2 separate regions of the Homo sapiens genome follow, and region 1 is linked to region 2. A link means that fine-mapping ties the variant in region 2 to the expression of a gene that starts in the linked region. Tissue or cell type: blood mononuclear cells. Region 2 holds a variant in brackets; the other region holds the start of a gene. All regions are shown on one strand. Distances are from middle to middle.

Region 1 (8,174 bases), 20 kb after region 2:
TTCCCATCAGGTTAAACATTCACTTCCCAAAACTTAGCCATCCCTAGTCTTGGGTATTCCCAATAGAAATAAGTGCTTGGCCGGGCGCGGTGGCTCATGCCTGTAATCCCAGCACTTTGGGAGGCCGAGGCAGGCAGATCACGAGGTCAGGAGATCGAGACCATCCTCACACAGTGAAACCCCGTCTCTACTAAAAAAATACAAAAAAAATTAGCCGGGCGTGATGGCGAGTGCCTGTAGTCCCAGCTACTCAGAAGGCTGAGGCAGGAGAATGGCCTGAACCCAGGAGGCGGAGCTTGCAGTGAGCCAAGATCGTGCCACTGCACTCCAGCCTGGGCGAAAGAGCGAGACTCCATCTCAAACAAAAAAAAAAAAAAAAAAGAAAGAAGTGCTTATGTCCACCAAAGACAAGCACGAAGATACTCGTAGCATTATTCATAATGGCCCCAAACTGGAAACATCCTGAATGTCTATCCACGGGAACATGGACAGATAAATTGTAGTATTTCCACACAAGGGACTACCAGGCAGCAATGAAAAAGAATGAAGTACTGATATATACAGTAGCCGTGTGGATTGAATTTCACAGGCATACTGTTGAATGAGAAGAGCCAGGCATAGCTCGCAGCGGATTCCACTCATCTATGGTGATGGAGATCAAAATAGTGGTTACCTCTGGGTATCTGTGTGTAAATTCTGCTCCCTAACAGGACACAGGGAAAACTTCCCAGGATGGCAGTCAGAGCCACAAATCAAGACTTACCTGCATTTGGGGCTCACCTGAGCGGCCTTTTCTTGCTTGCTTGCTTATTTGCTTTTTTGAGATAAACAATATACATTGAGGTGTACACAATGCAGTGAAAAAAGCATACAGCCCAGTGAATCTTTACATGTTTACACTGAGTATTGAACTTCATGCAAAGTGCTGTTCTAGGCCCCTGGAAAGGGAAGCCAAGGTTATGAGACACAGACTGTGTCGGTATGGATTTCATAATCTGGTGGAGGAGATATTACAATACAAGGTGGAACGATGACTTTTCATCCATTCACCCATGGGGTGTTTTTCTTGTTTGTTTTGTTTTTTGAGACAGAGTCTCACTCTGTCGCCCAGGCTGGAGTGCAGTGGCACGATCTCGGCTCACTGCAAGCTCCGCCTCCCGGGTTCATGCCATTATCCTGCCTCAGCCTCCCTAGTAGCTGGGACTACAGGCGCCTGCCACCAAGCCTGGCTAATTTTTTGTATATTTAGTAGAGACAGGGTTTCACTGTGTTAGCCAGGATGGTCTCGAACTCCTGATCTCATGATCCGCCCGCCTCGGCCTCCCAAAGTGCTGGGACTACAGGTGTGAGCCACTGCACCCCCATGGGGTGTTTTTGAGCCCCTGCTCTATGCCAGGCACTGAACTAGACAGGGGAAATGGAGTAGCAACCAAGACCCCACTCTACCGTGAGGGTTTTGGAGAGGAGCGCAACTAATTGATTCTACCTCCTAAACATTTTCCAAATTCATTCCCTTGCCTCCCACTGACCCTATCCTAGTCAGGCTGCTACCCTCTCTCCTCTGCAGCTCTCTCAGTCCTTGCCCCTGATTCATTCTCCAGATCAGCAGCCCTTACCTAAGTGCTCAGCCGAAAAAAATTCAAAATTGATGACTGCCCCTGGCCCAGGCAGCTCCGGTGCTGGCCTGTGTGGGCTCAAATCTTCACTTGTAGGATCTATAATTGTGACCACAGGCAAGTTCCTGATATGTCCTGAGCCTCGTGTGTGTCTTCTATAAAATGGAGATGAAATAGTATTAACAACAAAAACCATACCTGTCTCCCTGAAGAGGCTAGGCTTGCACCATCCACTACTCCTCCCAGTGCCTCTCAATGCTGGTCACTCCTGCCTCTCTGAACTACCCAGTGATAGAAAGCTGCTTCTGTTCATGAACACACCCTTTGGTTTCAAGGCCTGAGACTCTATAATTGGTGCCCCAGTTTGACGTGTCTTTCCCTTCACCTTCTCTGGCTGGGTCTTACTCAGCTCCAGACTCGGCCTAGGCATTGCCTCCTCCAGGAGCCTTCCCTGAAGCTGCCTACGGGGCTGGGTGCCCCTGTGTGGGCCCCCACAACACCCCGGATTGAACTTCTCTGTCTCCTGTTTCTGTTTGTCTCCACTTGCTTGAGTGTGGGCTCCTGCCGGGCAGGCTGCCTCTGAGTTGCTGAATGAAACTCTTCTTTGCGCCCCTACTGTGGACCCCTCCAGTCCAGTGCAGGTGCTGGATGTGCCTACTGACCTGAGCAGAACATGCTGAGCACTTTAAGGGAGGTGGCCTTGAGGAATGGGCAGGACATCAAGAAAGAAAATATATATATATATATATATATATATGTATGTATATATATATTTTTAAACAAGTTGTACATGCAGACAATACTAAATTCAGCAGAAACAAAAGGGATTGCAATGAAAATTAAAAGTAGGTCACCTCTCAACCACCCAGCTCCCCTCCCCAGTGGCCACCTCTTCTATCAGTTTCTGAGTATTCTCTGCAGGGCAGAATTGTCAGTCTTCCGTCCCTTTTTTATTTTGCAAAAATTTAAAGCAACAGAAAAGTTGCAAGAATAGTACAATAAGGCCGGGCGCGGTGGCTCACGCCTGTAATCCCAGCACTTTGGGAGGCCGAGGCGGGCGGATCACGAGGTCAGGAGATCGAGACCATCCCGGCTAAAACGGTGAAACCCCGTCTCTACTAAAAATACAAAAAATTAGCCGGGCGTAGTGGCGGGCGCCTGTAGTCCCAGCTACTCGGGAGGCTGAGGCAGGAGAATGGTGTGAACCCGGGAGGCGGAGCTTGCAGTGAGCCGAGATCCCGCCACTGCACTCCAGCCTGGGCGACAGAGCGAGACTCCGTCTCAAAAAAAAAAAAAAAAAAAAAAAAAAAAAAGAATAGTACAATAAACACCTTTTGCCTAGATTCACCAATTAACATTATGCTACTTAACAAGCATTATATCATTTAATGTTCACATTAATTAATTAATGCCAATTTTGTACATGAGGTCACTGAGGCACCAGGCAGGTTAAGGGACTTGCCCGAGGCCACAGAGCTCCTGCCTGGTGGAGCTGGGCTTTCCCCCTTAGGCTGCCAAAGGACTTTGATCTGCCTTCCCACAGCTCCCTTTTGAGGAAAAGCATTTTCTTACACTAAGTTGAAATCCACCTCCCTGGGATATTTACCAGATGATCCGTGGAAAAGTACACAGCTCTGGAAGCATTTGCTACTTCTCCTCCTAAAACCTCCTCCATTCCCTGAGCGACAGCTGCTGTGGCTGCCACTACCACATGCTCCAATGTCACCTCCTCCGTGAAGGCTGGGTTAGCTCACCCCCCTGTTTAAAGACTCACCATGACTCCCAGCTGCCAGTGGGATGACATGTGCACGCCTGGGCTTGGAATACAAGGCCTGGGTGATAGAGCCCTCTTCCAATCCCTCTTGCTCCTTCTTCCCCTATCTCCACTTCCAGCCACACTCAACCCTCTCACTGTCCACTTAAACTTCCCCTCCTCCTTGAAGCCACCCGAATTTTTCTAAAGAGCGCATTTCTCCCCTCTCTGGGCTCCTGCAACCTTCTGCCTGAGCCTTTGACAGCCTTTTCCAGGTTGTCTTTTGGCCAGGAGGCTGGACAATGGAGGACGGGAGTGACAGCTCGGCCCCTTCCTAGCAGAGTGATCCTACACAAATTACTCCAGGTGTCTGACCCTTCATTTCCTCAAGCACATCATGGGGGAAAGAATGCCTAGCTCAGCACCTGGCAGAGAGTCAGCCTTCGCTCATCTCCCCTAATGGAGCTGACAGCTCTTCAAGTCCGCTGACATCTTCTCTTAGTCATCCCTTGAAATACTACCCGCTGTTACTTCTCTGCTCCTCAGTCTCCTCCTATGTAAAATGGGGATGAGAAAGGAGAGGTTGCGAACCTTTAATGAGCGAGCCCTTGGAGTATCCAGCCCTTCCCGACGCTAACTGACTCCTACGAGGGGGCCTGGTACACAGTAGGTGCTAAACTAATCCTCTCCGAGCTGGGCTTGGGGAAGATGCCTCCGTTGGGTGTACAGCGTGGGCGCGGGAAGGCGAGCCTGGGAGCGAGGGGGTTGCAGAGAGGCAGCCTGAGGTCGGCTCCGCCTTCCCCCGCATCCCCCGCCCGGGCCCTGCAGCTGTCAGCCCGGCCGGCCTCGGCGCCAGTCCACCAAACCTGAACGTCCCATGCCGGCGCCCCCACCTTCCCGGCCTGCACAACTTACCTTGCGCTCGGCGGCCCTCGGTCCCGCCCCCGACTGCCATTGGCCCAGAGGTTCCTTTGTTAGCGAGAGCGCGCCAACCCCATTGGCCGGTGGGGCTGCCGATCGCGTCGGGCGCGGCCCCGCCCCGTACGCCCCGGCACCTCCCCGCGCCCGGCCGCCCGCCCGCCCGCCCGCCCGCCCGCCCCCGTAGTGCGTGAGGCGCTCCGGTCCCATTTGCAGCGGCCGCGGGGCGCCGAGGGCAGCTGCGGCGGCGCGGACGAGCCGGGACGGCGGCGACCGGAGCCTGAGAGGCGGGCCGCAGCGGGAAGCAGCGGGCCCGAGGCCGCGTCCATGGGCCCGCGGCGGCCGGGCGGCGGCGGTGCGGGCGGGAGCTGGGCGTCGCGCGCGCTGTGAGGCCCGGGCGGCTCAGGAGCCTCGGCGCGTGCAGCGAACCGCCCGCCGGGAAGGAGGCCGGGCCGGGCCTGCGGCGGGGCCGGCGAGGGATGCGGCGCGGCCGCGCTGAGCCCCTAGCCCGCCGGGAGCGCCAGGCCGGCCAGGCCTGCGCCGCCGCCGCCGCCGCCGTCGCCGCCGCGCCGACCATGTCGGCAGCCAAGGAGAACCCGTGCAGGAAATTCCAGGCCAACATCTTCAACAAGAGCAAGTGTCAGAACTGCTTCAAGCCCCGCGAGTCGCATCTGCTCAACGACGAGGACCTGACGCAGGTGAGCGACTGGGGCCGGCCCGGACACCTCCGTTCTGGGAGCCGCGGGTCGGCGGCCGGGGCGCCGCCAAGGGCTGCAGGGAAAATAAAAATGGAGCAGGGAAATGCGCGAGTCCTGGGGCATGGGGACGGGGACGGGAAGTGCATTGACAGAGCTGGGACAAAGGGAAAATCCTCGAGTATGCCGAAAAATAACATCCTTTCCCGTTCCCATTGCCCGGCTGTGTGATTCATGCTTTTTGGGTGACTCAAAAGTGCCTGGTTTCGCTTAGTAGGAACAAAGCGCTTAGGGATTGCATGCCGCTTGACGGGACCCCCCTGAGATTCTGGCTTGGGACTGGACTTGGATTTGTCCAGCCAGAGTGGCCCAGGGGTCGGATTGTTGGGGAGGACTGTGGGCTTCCGTCTAGTGGGACGCAGCCTGCCCCGATTCTGAATCATCGTCACTGTCAAGCACTGGAGAGAGGTGAAGGGGTGTCCAAATCTGGCGAGGAGGGTCTTGTTCTTGAACTTAGTTTGGCAGGCCGTAGTTTAGCGGGGAGCTGGGACCAGTTCCCTGGTCACTGGCCGAGGGGTGAGGAGACCTGTGGGTCCTCGGGAAAGTTGATTTCTGTCTCCCAGCCTTAACTGTCAAACAGGGCTTTGAACTAGTTATGACTCCCAAACGTGCATTAGAGTCATAGCCATTAAACACAGAGTTCTGGGGCCCCCGCCCTGGAGTGACTGGGGAGATGGGGAATTTGTATTGATGAAAGGCTCCAAGAGGCTTGGCTGCAGCCCCCATGGCCCTTGGGAACCCCTGCAGTGATTGCTGTTTGAACTCCTAGTGTTCCAGGATTCCGAGCCTTGTGTGCACCTCCTTGGGATGTGCCTCGGTACCCTCCCCACGGCCATCATCTCCATCCTCTTCAGAGCTTTCTCTCAGCCTCCTGAATGAAGCCAGGGGAAGTCCCTTCACATTCCAGTCCAGTGTGACCTAGTTGTAGCCACTCCTGTCGCAGAAGAACCCCTTAGACTGAAAACGAGTGAACGGGCCTGGTTGTTTTTAATGCCACTTCAGTGCACCCAGGGTTTGACTTGTTTACATGGCCGACTGGAGTAGGGTGGTGGGGCAGGGGTTACGGCCTGGGGCACGGGGCCTTTCTCTGAGGTCAGGTTTCCAACTGCCAGGAAAAGATTCCTTTCATCTAAACCCCAAAAGCTTAACGAAACACTCAAGGCTGCAAAGTCATAGATGGTTAAGATACCAAGGGTTTTAAGGACGGTCAGCTTGGGACGGATAGAACTCATTTACCTCGGAGGGTGTTTTGGAGTGTAAAGGAGAACTTGATTCCTTCTTCTCATCTGGATGCTTTTTTGGATGAAACAGTTTATGCGATGAGGAGTTGTTAGGAGACTTTGCTTCAGGTCTTGGCTGTCACTTCCAGCTGTGTGACCTTGAACAAATCCCTTTACTTCTGTATCTTTTAATTTCCTTATCTGTAAATTGGGAATCCTGGTCCCTGGCTTACCTCCTTCACTGAGCATTTGTGAAAAGCAAGAAATGATATTTTATGAAACTTTTTTCTCTTACAATTTAACAAACCAAAAAAACCTGCCACTTTAAGAAGTTTCTGGGCAAGGGTTGTTCTGAGAGAGGTTTGTAAGTTTCCTGGTTATTCTAAGCAACTGTCAAAATTGGTAAATTTACACCTCATAGGGGCTGTTTTCGAATTCTTAAGCTTAGATAAACTAGGATGGAATCTGCATGTTTGAGTCCAATCTGCTAAGATTTTTTTTAATCTGTTGATTATTAATTGGATTCACGGGGAGAGGCAAACTTAAAATACTGTACTCTCACTGTATTCAAAGTTGAATTGTGGGTTTTGAAACAGGCCTGAGACCTTCAGGGCACAACTGGAATGGTAGTTTCTGAAATAATGAGTGGGGTTATTTGTGCTGGGAGAGGTTAGCCCAGCATTCTACCTCCTGGGATCTTTCAGGAAGAAACTGCTCTTGAAAAGAGAGGAGGGAGACTCAGGGCTGTTGCCAACAGCCTTCTCTGCTGCTCTCTGCATCCGGCCCTCCCTCTCACTCTCATCCTTATGGCTCCATTAGAAAACCTCAACCAATCGGTTCCCATCAGTCTCCCCCAAGCCCCTGCTTCCTGCTGCCCCTCCCAGCCTGGAGCTTATTTTAGACCGTCAAAGCTGGAAGATACATCAGCCACCATCGAGGCCACTCCCTCCTTAAGAGGAGAGGATACTGGGCCCAGGGAGGTGGTGGGCAGCCTTGGCCGGCTTTTGCTCTGGAGATGTCATCTTCCCAGGAGCAGACATTTCTCTGAGCCTTTTGGTTTGAGGTTTATTTCCTCAGCTGTGGGTTTTGTTTGTTTGTTTTTCCCCTAGAGAGGCACAGAAACCTCTTGCAGGGACTGTATTATGGCATCAGACCTGGAAGGGACTTGGAGATCAGCTAATGTAACCACTTCCTCTTACCGGTGAGAAGATTGAAACCCAGAGAAGGGAAGTGACTTGCCCAGTTCAGGGATGGAGCCAGGATTCTGAAGCCAATGTTAGTTCCCCTACTCCTGTTCAGGGTCTACAGTGGCCACACCATGAGCACATGATGAGGACAATAATGTCAGGGATAGTTATGTTGCAGGAGGTGCCTTGAGAATGCTGGCTTGGAGCAGTGGAGTTCTTTGCCTTTTCCTCCTCACGGAAATTTGGAGTAATCTGGGATAAGTGATAAGTGACCGTCCTTTATTACTTGTTCCAGGCCCCTGTTCACAGAGTGTCATTTATCCTCCAGTTTTCCTGTGCATTTCTCAGCGACATACGGACCCAAATATACAGTTTTTTTTTTTTTTTTGAGGCGGAGTCTCGCTCTGTTGCCCAGGCTGGTGTGCAGTGGCGCGATCTGAGCTCACTGCAAGCTACGCCTCCCAGGTTCATGCCATTCTTCTGCCTCAGCCTCCCGAGTAGCTGGGACTACAGGCACCCGCCACCATGCCTGGCTAATTTTTTGTATTTTTAGTAGAGACGAGGTTTCACTGTGTTAGCCAGGATGGTCTTGATCTCCTGACCTCGTGATCCGCCTGCCTCGGCCTCCCAAAGTGCCGGGATTACAGGCGTGAGTCACTGTGCCCAGCTCAAATATACAGTTAAACCTTTTTATCCTGAACTGTGTGCATGTATTTGCTCTGCGA
Region 2 (8,174 bases):
TCTCTGCGACACATTGCACCCCACGGGGAACCGCAGAACCAGCTCCATCACCATCAACCCAGAACTGCTGGCAGCCAATGCCCGTGAGAGTTGGGTTCAACACCCCAGCTGGCTGGCCGGGCTGGGGAGCCTCTGAGGTATGTTCTGCTCCCCCAGGGAGGGAGCTCCATGTGCCCACAGCGCTCCCTGTCACCCCCTCCACCCCGCCAGGAAGGGATCCTCCCCCAGGGATGGAGGTTCAGGTGCCCAGAGTGCTCCCTGGCACAGCCTGCCTCGGCTCTTTCTCTTGCCTGCCTCACTTCCTGCCTCATTTCCTGACTCAGCAACTGGTGTTTTCTGGACCCCTCCACATACGCTCAGATCCTCCTCTCAGGTCGGGGGAGCCCACCATAGCCAGGGCTCTTCCCAGAGACATACATGTATCCCCACTCTCAGGCCCTAGCCACTCGATGTCACCTGATGTTCCTGAACTATGACTCCCACAAAAGGTTGGGATCCATCCTTCCTGCTCACCGCTGAACCCCCAACTCCAGGCAGAGCCCCTGTGCATCGCAGACTCCTGGTAGGTGTTGTTGGAGGATGGTGAGGTGGGCCCTGAAGGCCAGGGAGGCTGAGGAAGAGTCCCCAGGCCAGGGAGAGAGAGGCTCAGCCAGACCTCCTGGGCCAGGAGCCCTCAGACCTCCCGCAGGTGAGGGACACGCTGTTCTGAACAGAGGCTGAGTGAGTTCTGTCCACAGCAATCCTGTCGAACCTGTCTGGCCGGGTACAGAGCTTCAGGGCCCATATCCACGCTCAGGGGCAGGTGTCCTCAGGCGAGGACCATCAGGCAGCTTTCCCCCTCCAGGGCCCCTCCCTAGACAGGGCTCACACCAGACTTGCCCAGGGCCACAGCCCAGGACAGAGTGTTTGGCCTGTCTAAGGCCCAATATAGATTCCAGAATTCATTCATGGTTGCTGAACATTCCAGTTCAGCTGGGGACATGGGACGGGCAGGAGGGGTCTGCTGCCTAATCTGATGGATCTTCCATCCTGGTGGGGCAGGGGGCAGATGAGAACCAAGTGGGCACACAGGGAGATGGGAACTCAAGGCAGGGGGATGGTGGCAGCTCCATGGGCAGCTCTGAGGGCCAAGGACAGAGGAGGTTGTTTTGGGGGAGTGGGGAAGGTGGCTTGGAGGGGGCGGACTACAAAGACTAGCTTGGGTTGGGGCATGGTGAGTGCAAAGGTCCCGAGGCAGGAAAGAATGAGGATTTTGAGGTCCTGAACAGAGGCTGGCAGTGGGGAGAAAGGACATGGCAGCGGGGGTGGGGAGCAGGCCTCAGGGCCAGGAAGCCATGGGGGCAACCAAGTGTGGTTCTGGGGGCATGGAGGAGCCAAGAGGAGAGGGTGAGGTGGAAGGTGGCCAGACTCGATTTGTGTTTTTAGCAGACTCTGCAGTCAGGACTTGGGATCTGGACCACAGGAAGGGAGAGCGACAGCTGGGATGTGACCATTTTCACTGCAGGGCACCTGGGAAGGGGAGAGGGCGTGAAGTGGCCCAGACGTGGCTTTCCATTGGTGACCTCGTGCCCCACTCTCCACTGCCCCTTTTCACTTAACACTTCAGGAAACAGGTTCAGAGAAGGGAAGGGAATGGCCCAAGGTCCCTTGGCCCAGAATTGTACCTAGACAGGTGCACCTGGTCCCAGACTGCTCTCTTCTCACCACCCCACACTGCCCCCAATCTGTCAGGTAAGAAACTTTGGGTGGGAAGGGAGAAGGAAATTGAACCAGGGAGGTGATTACTGCCTCTCACACACAACTGGGCAGCAGGCGAAAGGCCAGGCGGCCCAGCCCCCTATCCAGGGTCCCCAGAGCTTGTTATTGGTATGTTGTGCTCACCTCCCTGTCCAGGAGTGAGAATTGGCTGTGTCTGACTCCTTGGGAAGGCTGTGTCCCCAGCCTGGGCCCTGTGGGTACTTAGTCATCTCGCACCCCAGAGTCACTCTGACCCCCGATGTGAACTGACCACTGAGCTTCAACAAATTAAGGGCCAAGTGCAGGAACAAAGTTGGATCCCACCCTCTTCTGCTTCCTCAAGCCACGGCCCGGAGTGATGAGCCACCTCCGCTCTGACCTCACCTCCTCCCAGCTCCCTGACTCCTTCGGCGGGGGGCCTGGCCAGCTTGTTCGGCCACTCTGGGCTCCAGGCTCTTCAACTGGAAAGAGATGCTTGTGGAGTTCCTCATGGCAAGTCTGGGCAAGCCAGCCTGACGGCCAGCCTGCGACTCCTTGTCCAGAACTCTGTCAACTCCACCAGTGCCTGTCACGGAAACCGCATGGCCACCAGCTTCAGGTGACAGGCCTCTTGCCTGGGTGATGAGCTTCCCAGGCCCATGCTATGGTGTGCGCTTTTTCACAGGAAGAGGATCGAGAGCAAGGGTCCCATTCTGGTGGTCCTCAGCCCGCATCTGGCCCACAGATGTTTAATTGGGCTGACATAATATATAGTTTTACCTTTTTTTTTTTTTTTTTTTTGAGACGGAGTCTCACTCTGTTGCCCAGGCTGGAGTGCAGTGGCGCCATCTCAGCTCACTACAAGCTCCGCCTCCCAGGTTCACGCCATTCTCCTGCCTCAGCCTCCCGAGTAGCTGGGACTACAGGCACCCGCCACCACACCCGGCTAATTTTTTTGTATTGTTAGTAGAGACAGGGTCTCACCATGTTAACCAGGATGGTCTCGATCTGCTGACCTCGTAATACGCCTGCCTTGGCCTCCCAAAGTGCTGGGATTACAGGCGTGAGCCACCGTGCCCGGTCTAGTTTTACATTTTTAATGCATTGCCAACATTTGAACATGAGTAGCTTTCACACAGAAAGATGGCTCTTTGGCTCCTCTGAAACACTGGACGACCGGGTGCCCTGCAGGGCCACAGTGAGCCAGAGGTGGGGGACATGGGCTCCAGACAAATCCCATGCCGAGCAGACCATGCCAGCCATCAACACCGCAGGCCTGGCCCTTGGGCATTGGAGTAATGGGTCTAGAATTTCCTTCACATTGTCAAAGGAGCCTGTGACCCAGAAATGGTAAGTAAGGTCCGATTCTCACCAACAAAGCAGGCATGACCTCAGACAAGTCCCTACCCTGCTCTGGGCCTCAGTTTCTCCTTTAGTGAGGAGGTGGGTGAGGGTCCTGTCCTCCTCCGGGAACTGGCGATTTGGGAAGGCAGAGACATTCCCAGAATCCGCCGGAGTCCTGAAAACACCCACGCCCTTTGTCCCAGCAATCCTGAGAAAGGCCACACTGATAAAGCTGTGGGTGGCCAGATGACAGCATTCTTGGGCCTCAGACGAAGTGGGAGGGGCCCACCCGCTTAGCTCCTCATAGCCCAGGGGAGCGGGGACAGTGCCTGCTGGGGCCGTGGGCAGCCCGGTGCCAGCCCCTACTGGCATTTCGATGATGCCACAAGTGCCGTGCCACAGCAGGGAGCCGCACAGTCATATTTTGCAAGGTTTTGAGGAAAGAATGCCAGTGTGGTAGGAGGGGAGACCAGTCCCCTCCCTCCCACCCCTCTGGGCTCCATCTGAAGCTGGTTCCTGAGAAGCACGATTGTGCCTTTTCACTGAAGGAGGGGCCCCCAGCTGTACTATGGACTTACTGACTTGTTTCCCAGCTCAGCCTGCCCCGGAGCAGAGCTAGGCAGGACCTTGGTGAAGAGGGTGCAGGGCTGGCCTGGCCTGGTCATGACACTGGGATAAGGAAGCCTGCTCTCCTCCCACCACTTCCAGCTCACAGGGGAATCTGAAACAGCCTCTCCTTTAGGGCTAGGGTTGCCTTTCAGCCACAGCGCCTATAAACCCATCACGGCACAGTGTTTGCCAGATAAGGCATCATCTTGGGTGAAAAATGTAGATTTTTCATCCTACGCAAGTAGGATGAAATCCAAATGGACTTATGGAGACACAGACACCTTTGTTTCAACACCTGGCCACAAGGCCCCCCAAAAGCTTCTATAAACAAAAGGGCTGACAGACCTAGCTCATCCGGTAGGCCCAGATCTTCCTTGCCCGGGGTGCCATGCAGGCAACCCACCCCGGGCTAGGGCAGTGGAGGCTTGATGACCAGGTGAGCTTGGGAGTCCCTGGGCAGAGGCAGGTCTCAGTCCCAGGGCCTTGGGTCTGCTGCTGGGTGTGATGAGTTAATAAGGAGGGCATGGTGTGCAGAATGAGCTCGGGTCCTGGCCATGGGACATCTGGCCAGCACTGTGCCCCTTGGAGCCCATCTTTCCATGGGATCATTAGAGTCCTTCTCTTGCAGCTGTTGGGAGAATGAAACACAAGGAAAGCCCAGGACCAGTACC[A/G]GGCACAGGGTCAGTGGCGACAGGTGAGACCACTCCATGTCCCCAGACACATCTGTCCTCTGAGCCTTTCACCTTGGGCTTGCCACTGGACTATCTCTCAAGTAGAAGGGGCTATGGGCGCCCCTCCCTGGTGGTCAGCAGTGGGGTGACCACCTCCTAAGGCAGTGAGTTCCCCATCAATGCGCGTGGCGGTTACTGAAGTGGGGCTGGGGCTGGAGCTGAGCCTGCTGGCTGGGAGAGGGGAAGGCTGCAGTGGCTGGGGAGCCAGGTCCAACCCAGCAGCCTGGTGGCCCCTTCCCACTCTCAGGGAATATCCCACACCTTCCCTGAGCACTGCCTCTGGGCCAGGCCCTGCTGGGAAGGGAGCTGAGAATACCACAGACTGGTCCCCACCCTTGTGGGGCTCATAGGCTGAGGCTGCTAAGTAACATCCCTGTCCCTGTGACACTCGGAACAGGAAGTCAAGAAAGAAGGTTCAGGAATCCTTTGCTGTTTTCCTAATACCAGACCCATCTTTTTCTTTAGCATGTCAACAACTCCCCTCCCTTCTGCGCCTGGAGATTCCTCTTTCTCCTTCAATACATATTTTGAAATGATATTTATTAACATAAAAATTATAAAACCTTTCAAACATCCAGAAAAATATAAGGAAAAATACCAAATATCCATGTTCTCACCACTTGGATTTAACACATGTGAACATTTGCCATGCTTCAGATCCTCCTTTTAAAACAAAATTGTATGACACAGCAATTGATGAACGGATCATCAGTACAATGGACTGTTATTCAGTCGCAGACAGGAATGATGTGTGGACTTGCCATGGTGTGCATGAGCCTCGAAGACATGATGCTGAGTGAAGGAATCAGACACAAAATGCTGCAGATTGTCTGATCCCATGTATTGAAATGTCCAGCTCAGGCAAATCCGTGGAGACAGAAAGCAGGCGAGTGTCTACCAGGGGCTGCGGGGAGGGGATGGGGAGTGACCACTTAGTGGGTACAGGGCTTCCTTTTGGGGTGAAGAAAATCTTTTAAACTTAGGTCATGGTGATGGATGCACAACTATTTTACTAGAATAAAAAATCACTGAATTGTACAATTTAAATGAATGAATTTTCTGGCATGGGGATTGTATCTCTCTCTCTCTCTTTTTTTTTTTTTTTTTAAGATGGAGTCTCTCTCTGTCACCCAGGCTGGAGTGCGATGTTACAATCTAGGCCCACTGCAACCTCTGTCTCCTGGGTTCAAGCGATTCTCTCACCTCTGCCCCCTGAGTAGCTGGGACTATAGGCACCCACTACCACACCCGAGTTAATTTTGTATTTTTAGTAGAGACAGGGTTTCACCATGTTGGCCAGGCTGATCTCAAACTCCTGACTTCAAGTGATCCACCTGCCTTGACCTCCCAAAGTGCTGGGATTACAGGCATGAGCCACCACGCCTGGCGAGTGGACTGTATCGCAATAAAAATGTGCATTAGTCTACTAGGGCTGCTGTGGCAAAATACCATGGACTGGGTGGCTAAAACAAGCAATTTTCTCAGAGTTCTGGGGGCTGTAAGTCCCAGATCAAGGTGTCTGTGGACAGGGCCTTCTGAGGGCTGTGCAGGAAGGCTCTGTTCTGGGACTGTCTCCTTGGCACGGTAGCGCTGTCTTCCCCCCATGTCTCTTCTCCTTGTCTTCCCTCTATGCACATCTCTGGGTCCAAATTCCCCCCCACCTTTTTTTTTTTTTCTTTGAGATGGAGTCTTGCTCTGTTGCCCAGGGTGGAGTGCAGTGGCACAATCTTGGCTTCACTGCAACCTCCGCCTCCCGGGTTCAAGTGATTCTCCTGCCTCAGCCTCCCGAGTAGCTGGGACTACAGGCACCCGCCACCACGCCCAGGTAATTTTTGTATTTTTAGTAGAGACGGGGTTTCACCATATTGGCCAGACTGATCTGGAACTCCTGACCTTGTGATCTGCTCGCCTTGGCCTCCCAAAGTGCTGGGATTACAGGCGTGAGCCACCATGCCCGGACCCAAATTTCCCCTTTTTATGAGGGCACGGGTCATGCTGGATAAGGGCTCACACTACTGACGTCAGTTTAACTTGATGACCTCTGTAAAGAGCCCATCTCCACATAGAGAGAGATAATTATTGCTCCTGTTGCTGTGGCTACTGATGCCATTTGGGGGATTCGTGGCAAGAAGGATGAACTGAGAGCGTCCGCGACATTGGGATCCAGGCTGGCAGCATCTTCCTGGCCGTCCGAGAGGGCTCTTTTCCCCGCCTGGGTGCCTGATCCTACCTACCCTATGCCCTGTGGCCCCCAGTGCTAAATTCCCGAAAAGCCTGGTAGGCCCTTGGTGCCACGAAGCCCCCGAGATCCCAAGTACAAAGCACAGGCAGAAACTGTAGGGGCAGGGGGAGCCACGGCAGGCCTCGGAGAGCTCGGGGAAGGCCACACAGCTCTGGGCTTCCGCCTGCTGTCCAGAGGCTATTAGTAAGGACAGAGCCTGGTGCCAGAGGTCAGGGCAGGTGGGAAGCAGGAGACCCTGAGGCACCCCATTCCTCGAGCAGGGCTCCAGCCAGGCTTGTTGGGAAGTACTTGACTCCATCCCCCATGCCCCACATGGGTAGGCCCCTCTCCCTTGGGTCAGGGCCAACCACATGGTCCTGCTGAAAGCCAGCCCCCTCCCTTCGGTGACCATGGCCTCCCGAGGGACTCAGGGTTGGGAGAGCAGCCAGGAGTATCTCCAAAAGCCAGGAGCTGACTGAATCCACAGCCAGACCACTTGCTCTCTGCAGAACCTTCCTGAGAAAGAACAGGGCTCCTGTCTAGCTGTCCCAGAGGGCAGCCGGGCCCACACCCCTGGCCAGGGGCATCCCCACCCCCTCTGATATATCACCCCACATGGCCCATGGCTGGCTCTGTTAAGGGGCACCCTCAAAAGCAGGCTCTGACATAGGGTTGGGGACAAGTTGTTTTGGGGGACATATGGTCCCAGGAAACACCAATAGAGGAGGGAGGAGGTAGACCTGAGGGAGGGAGGCCAAAGTGACCTATGTTAGTGAGTGGGGCCTTGCTGTGGGCCTGGCTCCCCTGGAGACCCTGCAGAGAGGCACAGCACCCTGTACTCTCCCTCCTGGAGCCCAGTAGTGGGTGTCACTCACTAACTCACAGCCCTTATTGCTCTGAGCTCCCGGGATTTCTGTCCCACCTCTCTGGAGGTGACAGGCACAGGATCCCTGGGCTGGGCAGGGACTGTCTGTCAGGACCTCAGGAATACCCCAAGCACAGGCAGCAAAAGCATATGCTTCCCCCACAGAGGGGTCAGGCTTGGGTCCCCTGAAGCACTTCTAGCTGTGCAGCTGTGGGCAAGTCACAGTGAGCTGTTGCTGACAGCAAAGGCGCTAGAATGTCAGCTCCCTGAGCAAAGGGGCTGGGTCTGTTCTGTTTCCTGCTTTATACCCAGAGCCCAGCCCAGGGTCTGGCACACGCAGTGCTTGGCTAATATTTGTAGGTAAATGTCTCGTGGCTCATGGTGTAAATCTCACTATCAATCATTGGTACCAATTCATTGACACTTCCTATGTGCCAGGCACGGCGCTGGGTGCTTGGCACCTCATTTCTGCTCTGGATAATCCATTGTTGTTACAGTAGTAGGATCACCCCCAAACATACACATGATGAAACGGAAGCAGAGAAACCAAGGTCACCCAGCCAAAAGTAGCAGAGATTTAAGCCAGGTTCCAGAGCCTGCATTTCTTATTCATTAAAAAAAATTAGGCCGGGCACAGTGGCTCACACCTGTAAGCCCAGCACTTTGGGAGGCCGAGGTGGGAGGGTCC

Evidence for each region. PIP is the estimated chance that this variant, and not a neighbour inherited with it, causes the effect.
Region 1: MPRIP starts here. The variant in region 2 is fine-mapped to the expression of MPRIP in blood mononuclear cells (TOPMed, PIP 0.96).

Annotation. Positions count from the first base shown.
Region 1 is chr17:17,037,987-17,046,160 of GRCh38, forward strand. It overlaps MPRIP (myosin phosphatase Rho interacting protein), which reads left to right and starts at 4,471. Exons shown (of 24, transcript NM_001364716.4): 1 at 4,471-4,985. The coding sequence starts at 4,863. It overlaps LOC124903938 (a long non-coding RNA gene), which reads right to left and starts at 4,339. Exons shown (of 3, transcript XR_007065644.1): 1 at 4,285-4,339; 2 at 3,795-3,922; 3 at 1,357-1,771. RefSeq lists silencers at 4,036-4,495, 6,169-6,463 and an enhancer at 5,158-6,357.
Region 2 is chr17:17,018,055-17,026,228 of GRCh38, forward strand. No RefSeq gene overlaps it. Among named protein-coding and RNA genes, the nearest start is that of MPRIP, 20 kb to the right of the region's middle. RefSeq lists an enhancer at 1,718-2,665. The variant A/G (reference allele first, on the strand shown) is at 4,341.